Homo sapiens: one gene and its partners. The protein of the gene in region 1 interacts with the protein of each later gene in a pairwise test. Each region holds a gene or a part of one and is shown on either strand. Other genes may lie near its edges.

Region 1 (7,025 bases):
TCATCCCAAGTTTAAGGAACAAGAAAGTCAGTCTGAATTTGTGAAAGTTTTTTTCTGCAAAAGAATTTTTTTCCTGATTATAATTGCAATTCATGCTCACTGCAGAAAACCTGAAAATATAAAAAATCAAGAAGAAAAATAAGCCATAGTCCCACAACCCAGGGATTAATAACCTGAAATTTTGGTGAATTTCCTTCTTTTCTCTGAATACATTTATTTTATATATTGTGTGTAATCTTGTGCATATTGCTCTATAGTGGATTATGACCATTCTCAGAGAATAGCACATTTTTATTTACTTTAGAGACACAGTAGAACTTTTATTTTTTTATTATTTTTTTGAGACGGAGTCTTGCTCTGTCACCCAGGCTGGAGCGCAGTGGCACCATCTTGGCTCACTGCAACCTCTGTCTCCCGGGTTCAAGCAATTCTCTTGCCTCAGCCTCCCAAGTAGCTGGGATTACAGGGATGCGCCACCACGCCTGGCTAATTTTTTTGTATTTTTAGTAGAGACGGTGTTTCACCATATTGGTCAGGCTGGTCTCGAATTCCTGACCTTGTGATCCGCCCTCCTCGGCCTCCCAAAGTGCTGGGATTACAGGACAGTAGAACATTTTTAAGAAAAGGTAATTTTATGGAAGTACATACTAAAACATTGGTGACAAGTAAAAGAGACTTCAGTACCATAGGTTTGCATGAATTTAAATGTCTTTAGTCAGGGCGTACATTCTGTAATTCACTACAAATACTATTGCTTCCTGTTCTTGAATACCACTTCACCATTCGTTTTCTTCTCCTGGCCAGTGACGGCATTTAAATTTGCGCTTCATATGTCAAACAAAAGGAAAAATTATTGCAAAAAATATTGCAGATCACTAAGAAAACAAACAGTGAAGTGGTATTCAATAATAGGAAGCTATAGGATCAGTGGTGAATTGTAGAATGAATGCCCTACCTAAAGATATTCAAATTCAGCTTAAAAAAAAACATGATAATAGCCAAACAAAACATGTGGCTCACAAGCTACTTAATTGTGAGCCCTGATTGAAAGCATTTATCCATTCCTACTTTATCCCTGACCCTGTGTTAGGTGTTACAGGTGGGACAGATCAATAAGCAGGGAGCCCGCAAATATATAAATAAAGCTCACTTTATTTAGAAAGGCAAGATATGTTAGTGGCTCTCAGTGGAACAAAAGTTCAGGCATCTAAGTTAACATTTCCATTGCTTACAAGCCCCACTTGATAAATTCCCTGTGGAACTCAGCTATATCCTGGCTAAGTGCTTTTATTGATCTGTTTATAATAATTCTCTACCTCCCCAAAAACATTTTAAATGGTTTCTGTCATTTCTTTGGTAGCAGTCACAACTTGTAAAGAATATACTTTAATTGCATTTCTATTGTCCAAGAAGGTGGCAATATTGTCCAAGAAGGTGCTTGAACATGGCTATATATTGTCTGTGGCTGCTTTTGTGCTACAACAGCAGAGTTGAGTAGTTGCAACAGAGATCCTATAGCTCTCAAGCCTAAAATATTTATCTGACCCTTTACAGAAAAGCTTTTCTGATCCCTCCTCTAGATTATTGTTACCTGTTTTGAAATATGTATAAATGGAATCAAACAGTTAACTTACATTTAAGTGAAAATGTGTAATAAGCAATAGAAATGCAAAAACCCATGACTATGCATCTAACAACAGAGCCTCAAAATACATGCAGCAAAAACAGACAGAACTGGGGAGAAAAATAGACAATTTAATAATAATGGTTGAAGACTTCAATATCCTACCTTCAGTGATGAACAGAACAACTAGATGAAAGATCCAGTATCCCACTCTCAGTAATGAATAGAACAACTAGATAGAAGATCAAATATCCCACTTTCAGTAATGCATAGAACAATTAGACAGATCAGCAAGGAAATATAAGACTTGAATCACGCTATAAACCAACTAGACCTAACAGGTATCTGTAGAACACCATTCAATAACATGAGAATGCCTATTCTTCTCTAGTGCGTATAGAACATTATTCAGGATAGAACATATATTAGACCATAAAATAAATCTCAATAAATTTATAGAGATTGATTTCATACAGAGTATGTTCTCCACCTACATGGAATGAAATTAGTAGTCAATAACAAGGAAATTTGGTAAATTTACAAATATGTAGAAATAACACACTCTTAACCAATGAGTCACAGAAGAAATTACAAAGGAAATTAGAAAATGCTTTGAGATAAATGAAAACAAAAACAACATACTAAAACTTAGATGCTGGCAAAGCAGTACTCAGAGGTTACTGTATGAATTTAGTACTCATATGAATTTATACTAATATACATTACATTGAAAAGAAGATCTCAAATCAGTAACCTAGCATTTCATCTTAAGAAACTAGAAAAAGAAGAGCAAACTAAAACATATTTATAAACTCCTTTATGCACAGCCCTGTGTTGGGTATAGACACAAGCTAGCAGAAGAAAGGAAAATTAAAGATTATAGCAGAGATAAAACAGAGAATAAAGAAACTACAGAGAGAACTGATGAGACCAAAAGTTGGCTCCTTGAAAAGACCAACAAAATTGACAAACCTTTAGCTAGGTTGACTGGCCTAGAAAAGAAGATTCAGATTACTAAAATCAGAAATGAAAGTGAGGACATTACTACCAACCTTGCAGAAATAAAAGAGATTATAAGAGAACACTATGAGCAATTGCATGCCAGCATCCCTGTGTGACTTCAGAATGTGAATGTGTGCCTGCAGAAACAACATACTCTCCAATCCCAACACAGTTTATACATCATCAAATAACCACATGAAAGGAAAGAGATTTGAGTCTCAGAAATGGCTTTGAGCTCCCTGCCTGGTTTGTATTTGGCTTACTTTTCTGGTGTCTAGGGATAGGCCAGTAGGAGGGTTAATGGAATCTTAAGTCATGCCAAATATAAAGATCATAAAGTCTATGTTTCCGTTGTCAGTGGGGTGGTACATCAGAAGGCTGACTGGGACAGCATCCATGAGAAAATATGTCAGCTCTTGATTCCACTGCGCACTTCCATGCCCTTCTACAATTCAGAGGAAGAACGGCAGCATGGCCTGCAGCAGCTGCAGCAGCGGCAGGTAGGGCCTACGGCACTTTCCAAGGTTAAGTCGTAGGTGCGGTGAAGCTGCCCAAGACAAGGCTCGAACTGTGTTGGGATCACTAAATTGTAACCTCACGGAGGGCAGAGACTTTGTTTTATATCTTTTTAAGTCCTCAACACCATCCAGTCTGTTGTTTTCCACATTTACTAAATACTTACTGTATTAGTCTGCTAGCACTGTCACAATCAAATATCACAAACTGGGTGGCTCAAACAGCATACATTTATTTCCTCACAGCTCTGGAGGCTGGGAAGTCCAAGATCAAGGGGTCAGCAGGTTTGGTTTCTTCTGAGGCCTCTCTTCCTGGCTTTCAGATGGCTGCCTTCCTACAGTGTCTTCACATGGTCCTTTGTGTGCAAGCATGCCTGGTATCTCTTTGTGTGTCCAATTTCCTCTTTTTATAAAGACACAAGTCAGATTAGGTTAGGGCCCACCCTAATGGCCTCATTCTAACTTAATCACCACTCTACAGGCCCTAGCTCCAATTATAGTCATGTGACAGACTGCAGGATAGGGCTTCAACACATGAATTTTGGCAGGGGACACAGTTCAGCCCATAACATCCACAGATGCCAAGAGTCTGGCCACATAATAGGAGGGTTAAGAATGATGTATGGATATACTACTGAATAAATAAAGGAGGTTACCAAAACCTGCCACTATTATTATGTATAGTGTTGAGTATTATTGAGTATTGAGCATCTCAATCACTCTAAAAAATTAGCCCCTTATTATAAGCCATAAATCTCTAAACATAAGATCCATCCATTTTAGTGTTATGACACTTTGATAGTGGCCTTAGAACAATGCAGAGTTAAAGTTTTTTGTGATATTAGCTAAACAGGATAATTCTGGAAGGGAAAATGAGATGTTTCTCTCAAAATTAACTCAACTAGGAAGGCAGAAAGTTTCAGATTGTCCTGAGACATGCTAGCTTTGCTAAAGTAAAGTTTTATTAGAACTGTAAAAACAATACTCATTTATTCATCTGATAACTCTATATTGAGCATTCATCTATGCCAAGCGCTGAACTAAGATGAAAATACACATGTTCCTGGGCCTTAAGGAACTCATAGTCCAGAGTTTGCTTTCTTATATCACTTATGTGGGGCTTCACGTCCACTCTAATACAGGCAGGCTCACTATGTGCCTTTAACTGGGTCATTAGGTGTTGGCCTTATCCCCAGGGCCATCTACATCCACCTTTGCCTTTAACTTTAGACTGTCTCAGATAGTCTGTTTCTCTCTTCCACAGAAGTATTTGATTGAATTCTGCTACACCATAGCCCAGAAATACCTCTTTGAAGGGAAACACGAAGATGCTGTACCAGCAGCTTTGCAGTCCCTTCGCTTCCGTGTGAAGCTGTATGGCCTGAGCTCCGTAGAGCTTGTGCCTGCTTACCTGCTGTTGGCCGAGGCCAGCCTTGGTGAGTGAAACCGACTTGAGATCCTTGGATCCCTTAAGTGGTGTTATGTTTGGGTCACACCAATGATCAAAGAGTCACCCTTGACAGTGGCACCAAGAGACCTATTGTAGAAGGAGCAGGGTTGCTGTAAAGTTTAGCACAAGGTAGGGAAGGAGATGTCACAGACTTTTGTCTACAACTGGCAGAAATCCACTCAAGCTGGCCTGCACAAAAAGGAGGAACTTTGTGCGGGTGCTGTAGTATCCTACAGGAGCTGAGGCTTCATGAGGGACTAGAATTGGAGTGCCTTTCGTTCTCTCTTGGGCCTTGTCTCCTGTATCTACTTCTCTCTGGGTATCTATCTGCTTTGCTATTTTCCCTCTCTGCAGACCAGATTTGTCTACCCTATGCTCACTGTAGAAGACAGCTACCCCAAAATGTCAGATGGAGTTTTTCAGTTTACGTGTTTTCTAGGTTTGAAGTAGGCAGTAGAAACTAATTAGCTTCTGATTTCCAAATACAAATTCGTAGAAGACAGAATTTTGTTGACATGGCTTGAGTGTGGAATCCACCTTTATTCCCTGGGATCAGAGCCACATAGTTCAGAAATACAGGAACCCACCCCTATAGATGGGAGAGGCAATTCTGAGAGTATAGAGCAGACTTAGCAGATACCCTACATGGTGGCCACCATTTAAAAAAATGCTTCATATGTTTTAATAGCCACCATTAAAAAAATACTTTTTTAAAAGTAAAACTTTTTTAAAAGTAAAACTGTTAAAATTAAGTACAATATAAAGAACTTTTATCCCCTGAGTTCTCTGAGAGTAAGTTGTTCACCTGATTCCCTATCCTTAGAATACTTCAGTGTCCCCTTAGTAAATGAGATATATTGTATTGTGGTTATGAAGGAGAATGTCTTTGTGGGAACCACACAAGGGGACCCTGTCATCTAAGAAGACCCCATTCAAGTTTCTCGAATTTTCCCAATAACATCTTTATAGCAAAAGGATACAGTTCAGGGTCACACTTTTCATTTTGTTGCCATGTGTTGGCAACAAAACTCTGGAATAGTTTCTCAACCTTTTCTTGACTTTTATGATCTTGACACTTTTACAGGTTACAGGCCAATTGTATAAAACATTTCTCAATTTGAGTTTGTCTGATATTTCCTAATGATGGGACTCACGTTATGGATTTTTGGCAAAAACAGTACAGAGGTGATGCTGTGTTCTCATCCCATCCTATAAACTGGCATGTTTTCATTTTTTTCATTACTGATGATGTTCATTTTAATTACTTTATTAGGATGGCGTCTGCCAGTCTTCCTCCCTGTAATGTTACTCTTTCACCCTTCTGTAATTAATAACTTTAATTTTCATTTCATGGATACGTCCTTTGAAACTATATAAATATCCCATTCCTCATCGAATTTTCAATGTATTCATTTAGTTATTTGTATCAGTATTTTATCTTTATTCAATGGGCTTAAATCCATTACTATCGTTAATTTGATCCTCAAACTGTCCCTGATTTGACCAGTGACAAACCCCACTCAAGCTGGCTTCTGCATCTCCCAGATACAACCCCATTTGTTCTTTGCTCACTTGACTGCTTTCTGGAACATACCTCTAAAGAGCCCTGATCTCTTTCAGTGGAAAGTGAAAATCAGAAGCCAAAAGCTGTGCACTAGATGTACTCATGCTTTTGGGGTATTACTGCTCCCAGGCCTTCTCAGTGGAGTTAGGGAGTAAGTGTAAATATAATAATGGGTGTACGTATACACACATTACATCTGTATTTATTTCTATATCTATATATCTTTTTTTTTTTTTTGAGACCGAGTCTCACTCTGTCACCCAGGCTAGAGTGCAGTGGCGCAATCTGAGCTCACTGCAGCCTCCACCTCCCTGGTTCAAGCAATTCTCCTGCCTCAGCCTCCCGAGTAGCTGGGACAACAGGTGTGTGCCACCACGCCTGGCTCATTTTTGTATTTGTAGTAGAGACGGGGTTTCACCATGTTTGTGATCTTGAACTCCTGTCCTCAAGTGATCCACCTGCTTCAGCTTCCCAAAGTGCTGGGATTACAGGTATGAGCCACCGTGTCTGGCCTGTATCTATATATCTACATCAATATCTCTATGACCACTAGTCTATACTGTTTGATCCAGATCTAATACAGCACCATAGGGTTCAATCTGATTTACTTCCATTCCTTAATTGCAACTCCCTTTGCTGACAGCTTTCACTTTCATTGGTTTATTTACATATTAATGAGTTCCCCTGTATGAATCAATCCCCGCTCTCTAACTCCGTCCTTTCCACCTTATAGATACCTCTTCCCGCTCCATGGGCCCTGACTCCCCATTCCAGGCTGCCTCTGCTGCATGGATCCCTCCTCACTTGTGTGGGTTCCAACTCCCCATAACAGGCTGTTTGCCTGCAGGAATGCCCTGCTCACCCTGCCCA
Region 2 (6,394 bases), about 10 Mb from region 1:
CTGCACAGTTAGAGAAACAGCAGAGTTAGGACTTGAACTCAGCACTAGTTTCGGCCAGTGGCTCTTCCAGTGGAAAGGAGTAAGAAGAAACAGAACAGGATGGAAGAGAAGAGAAATAGGAGAATGAAGTGACCCAGGTAGGAGCCTGTCGTGCTCTGCCTGCCTGCAGAACAAAGTTCAAACTCCTTCACCTGGTACGCAAAGGTCTCCTTGATCCAGCTTCTCTTCTGTTAACCCATTCCTGGATCCCCTGCATTCTATGCTCTGAAAGGGAAAATGATGTCAGATTCAGGGCTGGGTTCTCAGTACCAGGCATGGCCCAGGAAGGTGTTGATGAAAATTGATGAACTGAGTTTCTTGAAATTGTCCTTCACTTTCCTGCCTCCAGGCCTTTACCCACAATGCTTCCTCCCCAAAGGGAATGCCCTTTCTCTTGCTCATGGACATTCTAGAGCTAACTAGCCCCATTGGCAAGGACTGCGTCTAGAATCTTTGTATCCCTCACAAATCAGGTACGTGGGATGTGGCAGTAACTGGTTTCTAAATTTTTTTTTTTTTTTTGAGATGGAGTCTCACTCTGTCACCTAGGCTGGAGTGCAGTGGTGCGATCTCAGCTCACTGCAAGCTCCACCTCCTGGGTTCACACCATTCTCCTGCCTCAGCCTCCCGAGTAGCTGGGACTACAGGTTCCCGCCACCACGCCTGGCTAATTTTTTTGTATTTTTAGTAGAGACGGGGTTTCACCATGTTAGCCAGGATGGTCTTCATCTCCTGACCTCATGATCCACCTGCCTCGGCCTCCCAAAGTGCTGGGATTATAGGCGTGATCCATCATGCCCAGCCTAATTTTTTTTAGAGACAGGATCTCACTCTGTTGCTCAGGCTGGAGTGCAGTGGTGTGACCTTGGCTCATTGCAGCGTCAAACTCCTGGGCTCAAGCAATCTTCCTGCCTCAGGCTCCCCGGTAGCTAGGACTACAAGCACACGCCACCATACCTGGTTTTTTTGTTTTGTTTTGTTTTTAGAGATGGGATCTTGCTGTTTTCCATGCTGGTCTTGAACTCCTGGGCTCAAGTGATCCTCCTGCCTCAGCCTCCCAAAGTGCTGGGATTACAGGCCTGAGCCACCATGCCTGGCCTATTTTTTTTTTTTTTTTAAGGAAAGGAGGGTTGAGAAGAGAGGAGAAGGAAGTGGGAGAGATGGAAAAAAAGGAAGAATGAGAAGGATTCACTATTTGGGGGCTGGCAGAGTCCAAAGAGACCAGCTGATGCCTTTTTTTTTTAAACCAGTGAGGAAATAGGCCCTTTTAGTAAGCCTCCTACATGGGGACTGCCTGGGAGAGCATTTTATGTGGAAACTGAGAAGGGTATCCCTTTTGGGTGACGTGGAATTTTAAGGTGCTCTAGGGAAAGCTTGGACTTCTCTACCCTATGAGGATTAGAGGAGGGTGTTGAATCAATTGTCCTTAGATCTCAGGGGACAGGAGACTGAACCTGACCTTTAGGTTACACTCCCCCCGTAACAAAATTGGAAAGTAGAATATACGGGCTCATTAAAGCCAAATTGGAAAGTAGGAAATAGTTGTTTAGCTTAAATACTAGCACCTCCAGGCAGGCTTCCTGTCATGGGCCCCTCCGAGGGCAGATCTTAGGTCATGTGGTCTCAGGATGCTGAGGAGTGTGCTAGACTCTCATTGGGGGACCTTGGGTAAGTCTCAAAGGCTCAGTTCACTCATCTGTAAAATAGGAAGTTAAACCAACGTCTTTCTTTCTCTCTCTTTTTTTTTTTTTTTTGGATAGAGTCTTGCTCTGTTGCCCAGGCTGGAGTGCAGTGGCATGATCTCAGCTCACTGCAACCTCTGCCTCCTGGGTTCAAGGAATTCTCCTGCCTCAGCCTCCCGAGTGGCTGGGATTACAGGTGCGTACCACCACACCCAGCTAATTTTTGTATTTTTAGTAGAGACGGGGTTTCGCCATGTTGGCCAGGCTGGTCTCGAACTCCTGACCTTGTGATCCACCTGCCTCGGTCTCCCAAAGTGCTGGGATTACAGGCGTGAGCCACCGCGCCTGGCAAGCCACCATTTTTCAAATGGCCTCTTCCCCAATCTTTTTATGATCACTTCAGTCCTGGGAGAAACCAAGGCTCAGGATGGACTGGGGCAGCTCCAAACCCTTCCAATAAGGAAGGTCCCAGGCACCTAGGGCCACAAAGAGCAAGTCGCAGAACTTTGTCGCAGAACTTCTCGCTCGAGAGGATTAAAATGGGTCTGGTCGGGTGCCTGTAGTCCCAGCTACTTGGGAGGCTGAGGCAGGAGAATTGTTTGAACCTGGGAGGCAGAGGTTGCAGTGAACAGAGATCATGCCACTGCAGTCCAGCCTGGGAAACAGAGCGAGACTCCATCTCATAGATAGATAGATAGATAGATAGATAGATAGATAGATAGATAGATAGATGATAGATAGATAAGATAGATAGATAGCCTGGTGTGGGTGGCCTATGGCTGTATTCTATGTTACTTGTCGGTCCACCTCTTCCTCCTGTTCCCCGCTTCTGTGGGTTGCCAGGGTCCAGCACAGTGATGTGAATTTCACCGGAGAATCACCAGAGGGTTAGAGAGATGGACCAGGGCAGGGCCCAAGGGAAAGGCTGCCCAGGAGGGGTCAGGACCAGCAAGATACGAGAGGAGTGAAGTGGCGTAGGTTGAAAGGCGGAAGGGCGGGCCCCTAAGGCTGGGTCCAAACGAGGAGGCTGCGGAAGGGAAAGTGTTATTGGACTGGGCAGAGCAGCTGGTGGGCCCGACGGATAGACATACACTGCCAGCCCGGAGTGGAAAGAACAGTTTGTGCTGTGCTTTATTAAAATGTGCATCATTCTTTTATTTTAAAATGTGCATCATTGTCTCGTGCTCGGCGCATGCGACCTCAGCGTGGTGGCCCGCTGGGGGCCTCGTTCCCGCCCAGCTCCCGCGGAGCCGCAGGGAGCAGGCGCACTCACGTGGCGCGGGCCCGGGGGCTCCCGCCCATGGCGAGGTAGACGTCGATGGGCACGTGCAGCAGCGTCAGGCAGTGGCATCCAGGGCAGCGACGAAGCGGCCTGGGGAAATTGACGCGCGACAGGGGCCGCTGAGGCAGGGGCTTGGCCCATCCTGTGGGGCGCACCCAGGGAGTGCACCTGGGGTCCCCGGGGGTCCGGACGTGGATGCGGGGTCCTGACTGCTGGGGGCGCCAAGTGGGACGGAGGGCGGGGCCGCGGGACGGGCGGAGGCGGGGGTGGGGCGCGGGCCTTACCTGACCGGGTTGTGCTCCGTCGCTACCGCCTCCGGGCTGTCCTGGGACTCGGGGGCGGCGGCAAGGCCACGGGAGTCTCCGGCCTCAATGGGGAATCTCCGACCCTGCGGGGGCTCCTGGGCGCTCATGTCCAAGCCCCGGGGCGCTCTGCGCGGGGAGTGGCGGTCAGGCCTCTCCCGGGTCGCCGGGCGCCGCCGCCTCGCGCCCGCCCCCTGGGCCGTCGCTCACCTCCCGGCGGTTGAGACCGGTCCCAGGCTAGAAGCAGCTGCCGGAGCCCTGGCCGCGGGAGAACGCTCCGGTCCAGGCGGAGCCGGGCAGGTCTCTGTGGCGTGCCCGGGCCCGGGCGTCGAGGAGGGCAGCATTGTGACCCGGGCCGCGGCGCGCTGACCTCACAGAGCACGTTCCTCCCACTGGAGAACCCCCAACGGTGCCCCCTGCCGCCCCTGGCACTCAGCGCGGGCCAGAATCGGGGACTGGAGGCCTCTGGCCATGGCGCCTGGAGACGGGGTCGCGCAGACCCCGGACACCCGAGGGGGGCGCAGCAGGCCAGGGCAACCCGCCGCGAGGCGGCGTCCACGCCGAGGAGCCGCGCATTCCCGGTCCACACAGACGCGGCGGAGCGCCCTCCCAGGCGGGACTACAACTCAATGCCTGGCACGGGGGCGGGCTCGGCGGTGACTTAATCCGGGCTGAGTTTGGTGGTGGTAGTGAGGGCAGGTAGGGGCACTGCCCATTTTGGCCAAGGGTCACACAGCATCTACATCACAATTGCACCGGAGTTTAAAAATGTCTGGCCCTGTCCCTCCCCACCACCCGCCGCTGTGTCCAGACAGAGAATGTTCTAACGCTGGGGGCGGCTGCGGATGAAGTCCTTGGGGAGAAAAGGAGCAGGCCAAGGGCGATGGTGGAGTAGAGCTGCCTCTCAGAGGCAGCATGAGCTGAGAGGGTGATAGGAAGGCGGCGCTAGACAGCATGGAGGACTTTCTGCTCTCCAATGGGTACCAGCTGGGCAAGACCATTGGGGAAGGGACCTACTCAAAAGTCAAAGAAGCATTTTCCAAAAAACACCAAAGAAAAGTGGCAATTAAAGTTATAGACAAGATGGGAGGGCCAGAAGGTGAGCCGGGGCCCCTTTGGAGGGAAGGAGGGAGGACTGGCTGAGGTGGGTGGGTGCTTCCTCCTGTTTGTTAGAACGATCATTCGATCATTCCCTGCTCCCGCTGGCCTGGAACCAAGCAAGCCCGATGGCAGCTCTGGAGTGGGTCAGTGGGGAACAGAGGGGTTCTGGGAGTCCAGGAACATTACACCCCCCCAGAATGCAAGATGAAAGTGGCATGAGGTGAAGGATCCTCAGAGGCAAAACCTGAGCCAGGCTTTCCTTTCCGGCAGGGGAACAGAGACTGGCAGAGGCCACAACCAGGGCTGGTAGAGAACAGGGGCTGGTGCCAAGGCCCGTGGAGATGGGAAAAAGGAAGACAGGGCTCATGGAAAGAATTGTGGGGTCAGGGGACAGTGGCGGGAGGAGCTGGCTCACCACCCTGTGGACAAATCAGGCCTTATAATTTGTGATTCTGTGGCTTTGTCTAAAAGTCCCTAAAGCACCTTGATATCCAGTCTCACAGACTGCTCACAACAGTCCACAAGGCTGGTGGGGAGTGCTTCTTTTGAATGATATACTAACGACAAAAATAATAGAAGTGAACATTCTTTGCAATGTCCAAGCAGCTAGACACACTTAAGACCATTAAGAAAGCCAAGAAATAAGACCCAGACAAGGTGGGCAGAAGTTGGAAGGCAGGAGACAGGTGTGAGGAGGTGGGCCTTTCTGATCTGCCAGCCCATCTCTCCTCCCCTTACTTCCTCAGAGTTTATCCAGAGATTCCTCCCTCGGGAGCTCCAAATCGTCCGTACCCTGGACCACAAGAACATCATCCAGGTGTATGAGATGCTGGAGTCTGCCGACGGGAAAATCTGCCTGGTGATGGAGCTCGCTGAGGGAGGGGATGTCTTTGACTGCGTGCTGAATGGGGGGCCACTGCCTGAAAGCCGGGCCAAGGCCCTCTTCCGTCAGATGGTTGAGGCCATCCGCTACTGCCATGGCTGTGGTGTGGCCCACCGGGACCTCAAATGTGAGAACGCCTTGTTGCAGGGCTTCAACCTGAAGCTGACTGACTTTGGCTTTGCCAAGGTGTTGCCCAAGTCACACCGGGAGCTGAGCCAGACCTTCTGCGGCAGTACAGCCTATGCTGCCCCCGAGGTGCTGCAGGGCATTCCCCACGATAGCAAAAAAGGTGATGTCTGGAGCATGGGTGTGGTCCTGTATGTCATGCTCTGTGCCAGCCTACCTTTTGACGACACAGACATCCCCAAGATGCTGTGGCAGCAGCAGAAGGGGGTGTCCTTCCCCACTCATCTGAGCATCTCGGCCGATTGCCAGGACCTGCTCAAGAGGCTCCTGGAACCCGATATGATCCTCCGGCCTTCAATTGAAGAAGTTAGTTGGCATCCATGGCTAGCAAGCACTTGATAAAAGCAATGGCAAGTGCTCTCCAATAAAGTAGGGGGAGAAAGCAAACCCAAAAACCCGCTTCTAAAATGGTGATATATATTTTACGCTTTAAGTTTACTTATCCTAAAACTTACCTACATCTACCCCAGCCTTACTACTACTCTTTCCTTTTAGAGATCTTCATGGAATCAAAGGGCCTCATTCAGACTTCCTTTTTTTTTTTTAAGAGTCTTGCTCTGTCGCCCAGGCTGGAATGCAGTGGCACGATTCCAGTTCACTGCAACTCTGCTTCCCAGGTTCAAGCGATTCTCCTGCCTCAGCCTCCCCAGTAGCTGGGATTACAGGCACCTCCCACCACGCCTGGCTATTTCTGTATTTTTAGTAGAGATGGGGTTTCACCATGTTGGCCAGGCTGGTCTGGAACTCCTGACCTTAGTGATCCACCCACCTTGGCCTCCCAAAATGTTGGGATTACAGGCATGAGCCACTGCGCCTGGCATGACAAGTGATTTTCATACTAAAGTTAATTAAAATAGACCCAAGAATCATATACAAACAGGGGGAAGAGAGGATAAAAATGACCAAGAGCAACTGAAGC
Region 3 (6,913 bases), on another chromosome or scaffold:
AAGCCCCAGCCATCCAGGCAAAGTCCAGTTACTCTGACCTGAACTGCTCACTGTGGCCGGAGGAAGGCCTGGGGTGACTGGCACAGGCCCAGTTCCTTCCAGAACCTGAAATAATCATTGTGGCAGGGAGTCGTTGATCCAAAGGAAAAAACCGAGGCAAAATCAATACAAGTAAGAGTATATTTGGGGGCTGGGCGCGGTGGCTCAGACCTGTAATCCCAGCACTTTGGGAGGCCGAGGCAGGCAGATCACCTGAGGTCTGGAGTTCGAGACCGGCCTGACCAACATGGAGAAACCCCGTCTCTACCAAAAATACAAAATTAGCTGGGCGTGATGGCGCATGCCTGTAATCCCAGCTACTTGGGAGGCTGAGACAGGAGAATCACTTGGACCCAGGAGGCGGAGGTTGCAGTGAGCCGAGATCACGCCATTGCACTCCAGCCTGGGCAACAAGAGCGAAACTCTGTCTCAAAAAAAAAAAAAAAAAAAAAGAATATATTTGGGTCAAGTTTGAGGACTGCAACCTGGGAGTATACATTCAAGTTGCCCTGAATATTCACTGTGATTAGCAACAGTTACAAGTAGGTTTTTGAAGGAAAAGAAGAGGCAGTTCCTAAATTGTTTACCAAGAATTTACATTAAAATAACATAAATTGGCTAGGTGCAGTGACTCATGCCTGTAATCCCAGCACTTTGGGAGGCCAAGGTGGGTGGATCACCTGAGGTCAGGAGTTCAAGACCAGCCTGGACAACATGGTGAAACCCTGTCTCTACTAAAAATACAAAATTAGCCGAGCATGGTGGCGGGTGCCTGTAATCCCAGCTACTTGAGAGCCTGAGGCAGGATAATTGCTTGAACCCGGCAGGCAGAGGTTGCAGTGAGCCAAGATTGAGCCATTGCACTCCAGCCTGGGCAACAAGAGCGAAACTCTGTCTCAAAAAAAAACAAAAACAAACAAACAAAAAAAAAGTAAATTGTTCTAAAGAGCTTCTGCATAGCAAAAAGAAACTATCAACAGAGTAAACAGACAATCTATAGAATGAGAGAAAATATTTGCAAACTATGCAGCTGACAAAGGACTAATATACAGAAACAATAAGGAACTTAAATGAATCAACAAGAATAAAATAATCCTATTAAAAAGTGGGCAAGGGGCCAGGCACGGTGGCTCATGCCTGTAATCCTAGCGCTTTGGGAGGCCCAGGCAGGCAGATCCCTTGAGGTCAGAAGTTTGAGACCAGCCTGGCCAACATGGTAAACCCCATCTCTACTACAAGTACAAAAATTAGCTGAGTGTGGTACCGTGTGTCTGTAATCACAGCCACTTGGGAGGCTGAGGCAGGAGAATTGCTTGAACCCAGGGGAGGAGGTTGCAGTGAGCCGAGATGGCGCCACTGCACTCCAGCCTAGGTGACAGGGCAAGACTCTGTCTCAAAAAAAACAAAGAACAAAAGACATGAACAGACACTTCTCAAAAGAAGACATACACGCATACAAGCAGCCAACAAACATGAAAAAATGCCCAACATCACTAATCATCAGAGAAATGCAAATCAAAACCACGAGGAGAAACCATTTCACATCAGTCAATGGCTATTATTATTATTATTTTTTCTGCCAGCATCTTGATTTTGGACAGAATGGCTGTTATTAAAAAGTCAAAAAATAGGAGATATTGGCAAGGCTGCAAAGAATGGGGAATACTTATACACTGTTGGTGGGAATGTAAATTAGTTCAGCCACTGTGGAAAGCAGCTTGGAGATTTCTCAAAGAACTTAAAATAGAACTACCCTTCAACCCAGCAATCCCGTTAGTGGGTACACACCCAAAAGAAAAGAAATCTTTCTACCAAAAAGCCATCTGCACTCATATGTGCATAGCAGCACTATTCACTATAGGTTAGATATGGGGTCAACTGAGGTGCCCATCAATAGTGGATTGGATAAAGAAAATGTGGTACATTTCCAACATGGAATACTATGCAGTCATGAAAAAGAATGAAATCTTGTCCTTTGCAGCAACATAGATGCAGCTGGAAGCCATTATCCTAAGTGAATTCATGCAGAAACAGAAAACCAAATATGACATGTCTCACTTCTAAGGGGGAGCTAAACCTTGGGTACCCACAGATATAAAGATGGGAACAAAAGACATTGGGGACTCCAGAAGGGTGGGGGGAGTAGGGCAAGGGCTGAAAAACTTCCTATTGGGTACTGTGCTCACTACCTGGGTAAGGAGATCAACAGAAAACCAAACCTCAGTGTCACCCAATATATCCCCTAACAAACCTGCACATGTACCCCTTGAATCTAAAATAAAAATAAAAATAATAAGTTGTTGATTGGCTACACATTTTTCTCTGTATCACAAGTTGCAGGAACATGCAGATAATGGGTGAGGCAGTGAGTCAGGAACAAAATGCCTTTAAACCATGGCCCCCACGGCCGGGTGCGGTAGCTCATGCCTGTAATCCCAGCACTTTGGGAGGCCGAGGTGAGTGGATCACTTGAGGTCAGGAGTTCAAGACTAGCCTGGCAAACATGGTGAAACCCCGTCTCTACCAAAAATACAAAAAATTAGCTGGACATGGTGGCAGGCCCCTGTAATCCCAGCTACTTGGGAGGCTGAGGCAGGAGAATTGCCTGAACCCAGGAGGTGGAGGTTGCAGTGAGCTGAGATCGCGCCATTGCACTCTCAGCCTGGGTAACAAAGCAAGACTCTAAAAACAAAAACAAAAAACAAACAAACAAACAAAAAACTATGGCCCCCCAAGCACTGCAGGGGGACCTGGACTGAAGTCCTATACTACTGTTTCTCTGGGCCTGATATATTTTGTTGTATCTAAGCTGCTTTCCTCAGATACAAATCCTTCAACAAACCCTAGGGAAAATTTCCTCTCAAGTCCCTCCAATTCTCCCAGTTCTGCCACGCTTTGTACACCCCTAACGAAAGGGGCCAGGTGCAGTAGCTCAGGCACGTAATCCCAACACTTTGAGAGGCTGAGGAGGGTGGATCACTTGAGCCCAGGAGTTCCAGACCAGCCTGGACAACATGGCAAGACTCCTGTCTCTACAAAAACTACAAAAATTAGCTGGGTATGGTGGTGCACACCTGCGGTCCCAGCTACTCGGGAAGCTGAGGCCGGAGGATCGCCTGAATCCAGGAGGTAGAGGCTGCAGTGAACCAAGTTCAAGACACTGCACTCCAGCCTGAACAGAGCGAGACCCCTGTCTCAAAAAAGTAAAATTAAAAATGGGGCCCGGCGCAGTGGCTCACGCCTGTAATTTCAACACTTTGGGAGGTGGAGGCGGGAGGATCGTTTGAGGTTGGGAGTTCGAGACCAGCCTGGCCAACATGGTGAAACCCGGTCTCCACTAAAAATACAAAACTTAGCCGGGCTTGGCGGCGCACGTCTGTAATCCCATCTACTATGAAGGCTGAGGTGGGAGGATCGCTTGAACTCGGGAGGTTGAAGCTGCAGTAAGCCGAGATCGCGCCACTGCACTCCAGCCTGGGCGACAGCGCGAGACTCCGTCTCAAAATAAATAAATAAATACATACATACATAAAGTAAAATAATGAATAAATAAAATAAGAAATGGGGAAATGGATCAGCAAGAAAGTGCCCGCCCCAGGCATGGGTGCCGTGCGGGACGGGGACGCGGCCCAGCCGGGAATCGGGGTGCCCAGGGTGCGATGTGCGAGGGGCTCCTGAGCGCGTGTGCTCCGCCCGACCCCGCCCTGTCCCCCCGACACACAGGTGGACCCAGGGTCAGCTCGTGCACCTGGGAAATGGCTCCCGCCGGGTAGCAGGGGCGGAGGGGCGGGGCTGGGCGGAGGGGCGGGGGGGCGGGGCCTGCCCGGGAGCCACGTCCGGGGAGGGGCCAGGTGAGCGGCAGACCCGGCACGCAGGTGGGGGCCGGCGGGGTCCGTGGCCAGGTAAGGCGGGCGGCGGCGGGAGGGAGCGCGCAGGGAGGAGGCCGTGCTCGGGGTGGGGGGGTGCGCCGCGGGGGCTCCCAGGGCGTGTACGGGGACAAGGGGCCGCTGGCCGGGTAGGGACGCCCAGGCGGGCGCGACGCCACGTGCGGCCGGGGGGAGACCCTCCGGCCGGCGCGCAGCCTCCGGGTCCCCTGTGGGTTCTAGACTCCCTCTCCCTTCACCTCCTTTCTTTCCCGCCCCCCCACACTCCCCTCCTCTGCTTTTTCCCCTGTCCTGTTCCTTCTCACCCCGCACCGCCTTCCCCGCCCTCGCCTCTCTCAGCCTGCGTTTTGGTCTGGTCTGGCCGGACGGTGTCAGCTCAAATGTTCCTTTTTTGCTTCCGTCCTGGGGTCTCAGGTTAGGTCGGGTCAGCGCCTGGGGGAGGCACCTCCCCCGCCCCCACACACCCCAAACCTACAAGGTGGGTGAGGTCATTCCCGTTTCATAGATGAGAAAACGGAGGCCGGGGCAGGTGCTGCGCTGATTCAAACTCAGGGGGTGGGGGGCTGGCCGGTTCAACACACAGCGGTGGAACCCCCCGGGAGTTAAAAGCAGAAACTTTTTTTTTTTTTTTTGACACCGAGTCTTGCTCTGTCCCCAGGCTGGATTGCAGTGTTGCATCTCTGCTCACTGCAACCTCCGCCTCCTGGGTTCAAGCGATTCTTGTGCCTCAGCCTCCCGAGTAGCTGGGATTACAGGGACTGACACCATGCCAGCTAATTTTTTGTATTTTTAGTACAGACAGGGTTTCACCATGTTGTCCAGGCTGGTCTCGACCACCTGACCTCAGGTGATCCGTCTTCCTGGGCCTCCCAAAGTGCTGGGATTACAGTCGTGAGACACCGCGCCCGGCCTAAAAGCCCAAAGTTTAAACCAATCCGCTAGCAGCCTCGGAGGTCGTCAGGAAGGCAGGGAGGCCCTGCCTTTCACTTTCCCTCAATCCTGTGGGGGGTGGGGGGGCTCCTGAGAATCCCTCGGGCTCTGCCACACCCTGACTTGGAAATTTCTCCGCTGCCTTGGGAGGAGTGTGAAGGCCCCGGAGAAGGAACCGCAGAGTCCACCCGGGAAGGAGGGTGGGATTGTTTGGCGGGATGGGGACAGCACCTTGGCCACCGACTTCAGGGTTTTGTGACAGAGGCTGTGTAGATTCCAGAGAGCTCTGTGCCGTCCCTCGCTTGCCTGTGAAATGCAGTGTTGGCATTTGTCCAGCTGAGAACTCAATGCTTAAGACTCAGCCGTTTCAGAAGTCGATGTCCTTTGGTTGGCCTCTCTGTTGGCAGCTTTAGGATCATGTTTGTGGACTCCTCATTCGATTCACTGACTAACCATTCCCCAAACCAACGCCAGAGTTGGGGGTAGGGCGAAGAGGGACATGGGATGTGGGCCTGAGCCCAGCTGATTCTTGTGGACAGCCAGCTGCCTGGTCCCTGCCCTCAGGGGCCCAGAGTCTGGCTTCTGTGTAGAGAGAATCCAAGGGTTTGTGGGAGCTTAGGAAGGGCTTCCTGGAGGAGGTGGCCATTGAGCTGGAAGGTGGATGGGAGGTGGATGGGGAAGAGAATGGCACCTACTGGCTAGGGATACTTCGCTTGTGAGGTACGGGTGGAAAAGTCCATGGAGTGCCTGACGGGGTGGGCCAATTTACTTGGATAACATCATTGGGTCATTGAAACTTTGTGTGTGTGTGTGTGTGTGTGTGTGTGTGTGTGTGACGCAGTTTTCGCTCTTGTCGCCCAGGCTGGAGTGCAATGGCACGATCTCAGCTCACTGCAACCTCTGCCTCCTTGGTTCAAGTGCTTCTCGTGCCTCAGCATCCAGAGTAGCTAGGATTACAGGCGCCCACCACCACACCCAGCTAATTTTTGTATTTTTAGTAGAAGTGGGGTTTCACCATGTTAGGCAGGCTGGTCTCAAACTCCTGACCTCAGACGATTTGTCTGCCTTGGCCTTCCAAAGTGCTTGGAGTGCTGGGATTACAGGCATGAGCCACCACACCCGGCCGAGTCATTGAAACTTACTTGACTTAAACATGCCTGGGACATCATGCCATCTGCCTAACAAGCCAGTTCTAGGCTGAGCTATTCATGGGCACACTGTAAACGATGGAGTTAAAGGCGGCTTCGGTTAAAGAGACGAGAGCAAGGAACTCAGGTCCTGGAGGTGCCTGACAGTATGTTTCACCACATTAAAAAAAACCCATCCCATTCCCTGATTTTACCCTCATTTCACTGATAGGGAAACTGAGGCACAGGCAGCATGAGGGTGAGAAAGAGATGGAGAAGGAGTCAGCAGACCTGGTTTTTAGGCAGGTCACTCTCCTTCTGGGGCACTCAGCCTCCTCATCTGCAAAAGGAGCTATTGGCTGTCCTTCCCCACTGCGATGGTGGTCACCAAATGGCCATGAAACCCTCACTGCACACTTGGCTGCCTGACTCCTTGCTCACATCAGGAGGCACGGACTGTTACTGCCCCGTTCACAGATGAGGAAACAGACAAGGAAGGTTAAGGTCCCATGGCTAGTGATTAGAGAGCCAGGCTTGGAAGCCAGCGGTGCTGCAGCTACAGTGTTCCCCGTGTCCCCACCTTCCTCCCACACACACTGTGCTGAGCCACCTCCCTGGGCACTGAGGTGTGCCTCCCACATGGGAGCTGGTGTCTGGTGTAAGATGGAGCCATTCGGAGCCTGCCGGTGACTACCCTTCAAATCTATGTGAAATTAGCATGGGGAGAGAAAATAGACGTTTTCCATTTCTTTCCAAATTATTTAACTTTTACCCCTTGGTCCTTTAATTAAAACTGATGCTCAAGGAAGATGCATCACGTGTGTCCAGATGCTTCCCAGGCCTCCCTGGGGTGCATTTGAGGGGAGAGCCTCTGGGCCCTGCACTGTGGGACTTAGCTGCAGGAGAGCGCGCTGCTCCGGAGTCCTGCCCCAG
Region 4 (7,490 bases), on another chromosome or scaffold:
AGTCCCAGCTACTCAGGAGACTGAGGCAGGAGAATCCCTTGAACCCAGGAGGCAGAGGTTGCAGTGAACTGAGACCATGCCACTGCACTCCACGCTGGGTGACAGAGCGAAACTCTGCCTCCAAAAAACAAAACAAAACAAAAAACAAATAGGCGGGGCACGGTGGTTCACGTCTGTAATCCTTGCACTTTGGGAGACCGAGGCGGGCAGATTATTTGAGGTCAGGAGTGTGAGACCAGCCTGACCAACATGGTGAAACCCTGTATCTACTAAAAATACAAAAATTAGCCGAGTGTGGTGGCAGGCGCCTATAATCCCAGCTACTCGGGAGGCTGAGGCAGGAGAATGTCTTGAACTCGGGAGGTGGAGGTTGCAGTGAGCCGAGATTGTGCCACTGCACTCCAGCCTGGGTGCGAACGAGTGAGACTCAGTCTCAAATAAATAAATAAATAAATAAATAAATAAATAAATAAATAAAAGAGCCTGCGCGATGGCTCATGCCTGTAATCCCAGCACTTTGGGAGGCCAAGGCAGGCAGATCATGAGGTCAGGAGTTCGAGACCAGCCTGACCAACATGGTGAAACCCCGTCTCTACTAAAAACACAAAAATCAGCCACAAGTGGTGGCACGTACCTGTAATCCCATGTACTCGGGAGGCTGAGACAGGAGAATCACTTGAACCCGGGAGGCGGAGGTTGCAGTGAGCCGAGATCGAGCCACTGTACTCCAGCCTGGCAACAAAGCGACACTCCGTCTCAAAAAAAAAAAAAAAAAAAAAAGAGATTTCAGGTCAGGAGAGCAGAAGAACCAGTTCTTGCTCCAGCTCTGCTGTGGACAGTTCACTGTCTGGGCCTGGGTTCGCCGGTCCGCAAGACAGGGCTAGCGGTGGATGCTGTTATGGGGAGTGGGCCCCTTTGATTAGTTGTTTCCCAAGACTGCAAAGAAGGGAGGGAGACAGCAGTTGATGAGGATGGTAACAAAAACCAAAAAAAGTTACCATTTAAAGGCTTGGCCTGTTTGCCCGATGCTGCTAAATGCTGTTGTGGGGATTTTATCAATTAACCCCCATTTACCAGATGAGGAACTTGAGGCCCAGGGAACCCAAATGGCTTGCTCAGGGTTACACAGCTGGTGAGCTGCAGTCGGGAAGGGCTGGCTCTCCAGCACGGCGCCACATTGTCTGGGCGGGCTCTGGCCATGCAGGGTGGAGCCCTGGCTCACTCTCTCTCCCTGGGGGCCAGGTTCAAGGGCAGCAGGAAAGACGAGATCCTGGGCATCGCCAACAACCGACTGATCCGCATCGACTTGGCCGTGGGCGACGTGGTCAAGACCTGGCGTTTCAGCAACATGCGCCAGTGGAATGTCAACTGGGACATCCGGCAGGTGGGCCCAGACCCAGGGTATATGGATGGGGGACAGGTGCAGGCCGGAGCTGGATCCAGCCAGGGTGGGGCAGGGGCTGCTCCCTTATCCCACCCACCATTTGCCCCTCTGTCTGCCCTTCAGGTGGCCATCGAGTTTGATGAACACATCAATGTGGCCTTCAGCTGCGTGTCTGCCAGCTGCCGAATTGTACACGAGTATATCGGGGGCTACATTTTCCTGTCGACGCGGGAGCGGGCCCGTGGGGAGGAGCTGGATGAAGACCTCTTCCTGCAGCTCACCGGGGGCCATGAGGCCTTCTGAGGGCTGTCTGATTGCCCCTGCCCTGCTCACCACCCTGTCACAGCCACTCCCAAGCCCACACCCACAGGGGCTCACTGCCCCACACCCGCTCCAGGCAGGCACCCAGCTGGGCATTTCACCTGCTGTCACTGACTTTGTGCAGGCCAAGGACCTGGCAGGGCCAGACGCTGTACCATCACCCAGGCCAGGGATGGGGGTGGGGGTCCCTGAGCTCATGTGGTGCCCCCTTTCCTTGTCTGAGTGGCTGAGGCTGATACCCCTGACCTATCTGCAGTCCCCCAGCACACAAGGAAGACCAGATGTAGCTACAGGATGATGAAACATGGTTTCAAACGAGTTCTTTCTTGTTACTTTTTAAAATTTCTTTTTTATAAATTAATATTTTATTGTTGGATCCTCCTCCTTTCTCTGGAGCTGTGCTTGGGGCTACTCTGACACTCTGTCTCTTCATCACCAGCCAAGGAAAGGGGCTTTCCTGATAAAGACAAGAGTTGGTTAGAGAAAGGGACACCTAAGTCAGTCTAGGGTTGGAAGCTAGGAGAGAGGTGAGGGCAGAAGGGCACAGCTTTCAGGAACAAGGAATAGGGGCTGGGGTGGTGGTTCTCACGGGTAGGGCGTAGCTGCAGGGCCTCCTTGAAGTACTTGGGAAGGAGGAAGCCATCAGTATTCCCTGGAGTCAGAATCACCCCATTGGCAGAGCGGAAGAAGGGTATTCCATCTGCTGACAGAGCCAGAGATGTGACTCATGCCCTCCCCGAAGGCAAGGGCAGCTCCTGCTTTGTCCAGACTCACCTGCCAGAGCCAGGGGTCCATCGATGAACACAGCTATTTCACAATGGGACCGCATGCCTGCAGAGACAGCTGGAGCTGAGGCCTGGGCACCTGGAGTGCAGTCAGCAACCTAGGCAGACTGGGGTCCTGGGCTGGGGGATGCAGGGGTGCTGCTCCATGCCGGACATGGGGTGGCCCCAGACAAGTGTTGTAACCTTTGAAGGGGACCTGGGAGGACAGAGTGGGTGGGAGTAGCTAGGTGGAGGGGAGGGCACTGACCACTGATGATACCGGGGTCTCCAGGCAGTCCTGGGGCCAGGTGAATGTGCGTCCTTCCCTGGCAGGACAGGCCTTTGAGTAGGATGGATGGCCAGTGCTTCCAGAATGTACCATGGACTAGCATCGGGGGCAGGGCCTGCGGTGTCTCCAGGGGCATCAGCTCCAACTTAGGTACCTGGTTGAACGGGTAGCAGTGAGACCCCCTTCGCAGGCAGGGGTCCCTCCCATCTCGTCTCGCACTTGTCCCCTCACCCCGACCTGCAGGGAATGGCCCTGGTTGGCCCGGATGAGAAGGCCAGTGCTGGGATCCCCCAGCTGCAGGGCGAACCGCTGCTTCCTATTGGTGTCCACCACGCGCTGCACATCTTCAGCAGAGAAGCCGCGGAACTGGGGCAACTGCAGGAGGGTGCCCAGGGGCACGAAGCCATCTGTGGGCAGGCAGGGTGCTCAGGAGCTAACCTTGCTCTGGACTGGGCCAGGGTTAACAGGGAGCCACAGGCAACCGAAACAAAGTCTGGGCTTGGAGATCGCTTGGGCATCCTCTGTGGGACCTTTAGAAAGTCTCCCCTTTCTGGGCCGCAGTTTTTTCAACTTACATAAAAAGAGGATCTGCCTCACGGAGGGGCAGGGAGGTGAGTGCCCAGCATAGCGCTGGCCCGGAGTGCACACTCACACCACCAGCTGCACCGTATCCTCCAGGGCTCGCCCTCGGGGTAAGTGCTGATCTGGCTGCTTGGCTGGAGGGGGCGGTCACCAGGCCTGGCCCAGACAAGAACTCTCCTCAGTCTGCTGTGGACATGACAGGGGCTCTAGGCCTTGCTCTCCTCTGTGCATGGGGAGGAAGTGCACTCTGTGCCTTCCTCAGGGAGCGGTGGAGGCAGCCATCAGGGAGGAGTCGCAGACAGGCTCACGTTTCTCTCTGGGCTCAAGCCCCAGCCTCCAAGGCCCCTACTTACCAGCTCCCATGGGAAGCCCCAGCTTCAAGGCCCCATGGCGCAGGGCATAGGACAGAGCCTTGGACAGCTGCACGTCTCGGTCCTGAAAGAACCCAGCGGTGGCCCCTAGTCTCCATGGTGACCCTGCCCTACTGCCCATCCTGAACCCTCAATGACCCACTGCAGAGAGAGCCCAGAGAGAAAGGAGTGCCAGTGGTCTCCAGGAATAGTAGGACCCTTCAGCTCCGCCCCCCAGCAACTCCCAGGGAGCCTGGACTGGTGGGAGGGGGTGGGGAGGAGGCGCGCACCTGTTCTCGGGGTCTGGGAGCCCTTCTACCCCTGGACCCTGCTGCTTCCTGCCTCCCTCCTCCAGAGAAGTTCATGGTTAAGACCTGTGGGGGGCAGTGACGAGGGGGGACTGCTTTAAGGCCCCTTCCACGTCCCCATCCCTCCCAGAAAGTCACAAAGCCTCAGGAAGTGAGCGCTGGGTGGGAGTATACGGCTCATTAAGTTCACCACCCCCAAGTCCCTGCTGCAGAGAGGGAAACTAAGGCCCAGCAGGCCAGACTTGCCCAAGGTCACACGGTCAGCCAGGAGCGCAGGGAGGCCGAGCCCCGCACCCCAGATCGCTGGTGCGCCCCGCAGGGTGGTCCGGGAGGCAGGGCCGACGTGCCGACGGACCGGGCGGAAGCGTCGGGGCGGCGGGGACAAACCTCCAGGATCCTCGACCGCGGCGGACCCGCCAATGAAAAGCCGCGTGGAAAGGGGGCGGGCACTTCCGCTTCGGGGAAGGGGCGGAGCCTGAGGGACCCGGCGGCTGGTGAGCGCCCGCTGGAGGCTGGAGCTTCCGGGCCCTGGAAAGGGGTCCCCGCGCGCCCCGGGTCGGAGGCAGACCCCTGGGTTTGGGGGACATGGGCATTTGGGGCGCCTGAACCCAAGACCTCTGGATGGTAGGGATGCCCGGGCGTCCTGGATACCCTGCGGGACTCGGGGCTCCTGCGGGGAAGATGGCACGTTTTACTGCCCAAGGAGTGGTCAGGGGGGTGGAGAAGCGCTGCGGATACCCTCAGGAGGTCTGCGACAGAGGGGGCTAGCTGCGCAGCCCAGGAGTGGTAGTGGCCCCCCTGGATGACAGGCCTGGCCGTATCCTCCCCCAGAGCTGCCCCGTTCAGACCATGGATCCTGAGGTGACCTTGCTGCTGCAGTGCCCTGGCGGGGGCCTGCCCCAGGAGCAGATACAGGCCGAGCTGAGCCCCGCCCATGACCGTCGCCCACTGCCAGGTGGGGACGAGGCCATCACTGCCATCTGGGAGACCCGGCTAAAGGCCCAACCCTGGCTCTTCGACGCCCCCAAGTTCCGCCTGCACTCAGCCACCCTGGCGCCTATTGGCTCTCGGGGGCCACAGCTGCTCCTGCGCCTGGGCCTTACTTCCTACCGAGACTTCCTGGGCACCAACTGGTCCAGCTCAGCTGCCTGGCTGCGACAGCAGGGTGCCACCGACTGGGGTGACACGCAGGCCTATCTGGCGGACCCACTGGGGGTGGGCGCTGCACTAGCCACAGCCGATGACTTCCTTGTCTTCCTGCGCCGCTCCCGGCAGGTGGCTGAGGCCCCTGGGCTGGTGGACGTACCTGGTGGGCACCCTGAGCCTCAGGTGAGATTCCAGGCTGGGCACAAAGACCCAGACAGCTCAAGGGAGCTGCAGCTCTCCACCCTCCCAATCCTCCCAGCTTTGGTTTCCTCATTCCTTAAAGGGAAAATTGGCCTGGTATTTCTCTGGAAGTTTGCTCAGGGCAGTCCACCTGCCTCCCCACTGACCCCTGCCCCAGTCCTGTGAGAAACTAGAAAACACGGGAGGAAAGATTGGGCACAGGAAGAAGATGCCCTACTCCACCCCTGCCCCCTGTGTATCTCCTTTGAAGCTGGACCTCTGGTTGTCTGTCAGGGAAAGGACACCAGACTCAGGATCACTAACTCTCTTACACTGTGCCACATCAGACCCTCAAGGCCAGCAGGTATAGGCTTGCTGGTCCTGAGATGGGGCAGGGGGAAGAGGTGGGGAGCAGGGGCTGAGCCTGACCTCTCACAGGCCCTGTGCCCTGGTGGCAGCCCCCAGCACCAGGACCTCGCTGGGCAGCTGGTGGTACATGAACTCTTTTCCAGTGTCCTTCAGGAGATCTGTGATGAGGTGAGTGAGGTTGACCTGGACAGGGTGGTAGACATGAAGGGAGGGGGTAGGACTTGCCAGAATTCTACAGGTCTGGGCTGGCAGGAGGCCTGCAGGCATCTGGCCAGCAATGAGGGAAGAAGTTGGCTTTGCAGCTATACATACTTGGAGTGGAATTCTAGCCCTCAGTACCCTCTGCCTTGGATTCTTCTTCTTTTCTTTTTTCTTTCTTTTTTTTTTTTTAGACAGAGTCTCGCTCTGTTGCCCAGGCTGGAATGCAGTGGCACGATCTCTGCTCACTGCAAGCTCCACCTCCCGGGTTCACGCCATTCTCCTACCTCAGCCTCCTGAGTAGCTGGGACTACAGGCATCCGCCACCATGCCTGGCTAATTTTTTTTGTATTTTTAGTAGAGATGGGGTTTCACCTTGTTAGCCAGGATGGTCTTGATCTCCTGACCTCGTGATCTGCCTGCCTCAGCCTCCAAAAGTGCTGGGATTACAGGTGTGAGCCACTGCACCAGGCCGGATTCTTCTTCTTTTTTTTTTTTTTCTTTTTGAGACAGAGTCTTGCTCTGTTGCCCAGGCTAGTGCAGTGGTGGCATATCGGCTCACTGCAACCTTCGCCTCCTGGGTTCAAGTGATTCTCATGCCTTGCCCCGCCAAGGATTCTTCTTTTCAATGGAAACAATGATAAATATCTTGCCTACTCCCCAAGTCTGTTGAAAAAGGAGTAAGTGGCCGGGCGCCGTGGCTCATGCCTGTAATCCCAGCACTTTGGGAGGCTGAGGTGGGCAGATCACAAGGTCAGGAGATCAAGACCATCCTGGCTAACACGGTGAAACCCTGACTTTACTAAAAATACCAAAAGTTAGCCGGGCGTGGTGGCGGGCACCTGTAGTCCCAGCTACTCAGGAGGCTGAGGCAGGAGAATGGCGTGAACCCGGGAGGCGGAGGTTGCAGTGAGCCGAAATCGCGCCACTGCACTTCAGCCTGGGCGACAAAGCGAGACTCCGTCTCAAAAAAAAGAAAAAGGAGTAAGTGTGGCAGGGTGTGGTGGCTCACACCTGTAATCCCAGCACTTTGGGAGGCCAAGGCCAGCGGATCACCTGAGGTCAGGAGTTCGAGACCAGCCTGGCCAACATGGAGAAACCCCATCTCTACTAAAAATACAAAAAATTAGCCAGGCGTTGTGGCGTGCACCTGTAATCCCAGCTACTCAGGAGGCTGAGGCAGGAGAATCACTTTAACCTGGGAGGCAGAGGTTGCAGTGAGCTGAGATCGTGCCACTGTACTCCAGCCTGGGCGACAGAGCGAGACTCCATCTCAAAAAAAGAAAAAAAGAAAAAGGAGTAAGTGGGAGTCCCAGTCACTAAATTGACTTCTCTTGGGTGACCTTGGGCAACGTGTTCAATCTCTCTGGTTTTGGTGTACCTGTAAAACAAACATGCCCATCATCTGACATTCTGTAATGCTGGGTCCTTGATCTACAAGCTATAAAATGCTGTACACAGGTAACAGGCGGTTTTTCATTGAGACGGGCAGGGATGTGGGCAGTGGCATTGATAGGTGGGACCTCCCCCCACCCCACCCTCCACCGCAGGTGAACCTGCCGCTGCTCACCCTGAGCCAGCCCCTGCTGTTGGGCATCG

What was found.
Region 2: the proteins of ZMYND12 (region 1) and TSSK3 interact in binary tests that used the Homo sapiens proteins (3 or more experiments, as listed by UniProt).
Region 3: the proteins of ZMYND12 (region 1) and ARHGAP8 interact in binary tests that used the Homo sapiens proteins (3 or more experiments, as listed by UniProt).
Region 4: the proteins of ZMYND12 (region 1) and NUDT22 interact in binary tests that used the Homo sapiens proteins (3 or more experiments, as listed by UniProt).

The regions. Positions count from the first base shown.
Region 1 is NC_000001.11:42,446,019-42,453,043, reverse strand, and holds part of ZMYND12 (zinc finger MYND domain-containing protein 12), read left to right. Parts: intron 1-2,984; coding exon 2,985-3,126; intron 3,127-4,405; coding exon 4,406-4,577; intron 4,578-7,025. UniProt on the Homo sapiens protein: Required for sperm flagellum function and male fertility.
Region 2 is NC_000001.11:32,358,443-32,364,836, forward strand, and holds TSSK3 (testis-specific serine/threonine-protein kinase 3), read left to right. Parts: upstream 1-4,096; 5' UTR 4,097-4,259; coding exon 4,260-4,404; intron 4,405-5,152; coding exon 5,153-5,814; 3' UTR 5,815-5,870; downstream 5,871-6,394. Other genes in the region: protein FAM229A, read right to left, coding at 2,991-3,093, 3,288-3,434, 3,516-3,649. UniProt on the Homo sapiens protein: Serine/threonine protein kinase required for spermatid development and male fertility.
Region 3 is NC_000022.11:44,748,687-44,755,599, forward strand, and holds the start of ARHGAP8 (rho GTPase-activating protein 8), read left to right. Parts: upstream 1-3,888; 5' UTR 3,889-3,941; intron 3,942-6,913.
Region 4 is NC_000011.10:64,221,806-64,229,295, forward strand, and holds the start of NUDT22 (uridine diphosphate glucose pyrophosphatase NUDT22), read left to right. Parts: upstream 1-4,468; 5' UTR 4,469-4,619; coding exon of another isoform or gene 4,620-4,622; exon of another isoform or gene 4,623-4,829; coding exon of another isoform or gene 4,830-4,847; coding exon 4,848-5,327; intron 5,328-5,595; coding exon of another isoform or gene 5,596-5,688; intron 5,689-5,762; coding exon 5,763-5,861; intron 5,862-7,340; exon of another isoform or gene 7,341-7,441; coding exon 7,442-7,490. Other genes in the region: FERMT3 (fermitin family homolog 3 long isoform), read left to right, coding at 1,243-1,384, 1,508-1,687; TRPT1 (tRNA 2'-phosphotransferase 1), read right to left, coding at 2,071-2,162, 2,295-2,405, 2,480-2,536, 2,738-2,912, 2,990-3,165, 3,694-3,775, 3,981-4,055. UniProt on the Homo sapiens protein: Hydrolyzes UDP-glucose to glucose 1-phosphate and UMP and UDP-galactose to galactose 1-phosphate and UMP. Preferred substrate is UDP-glucose.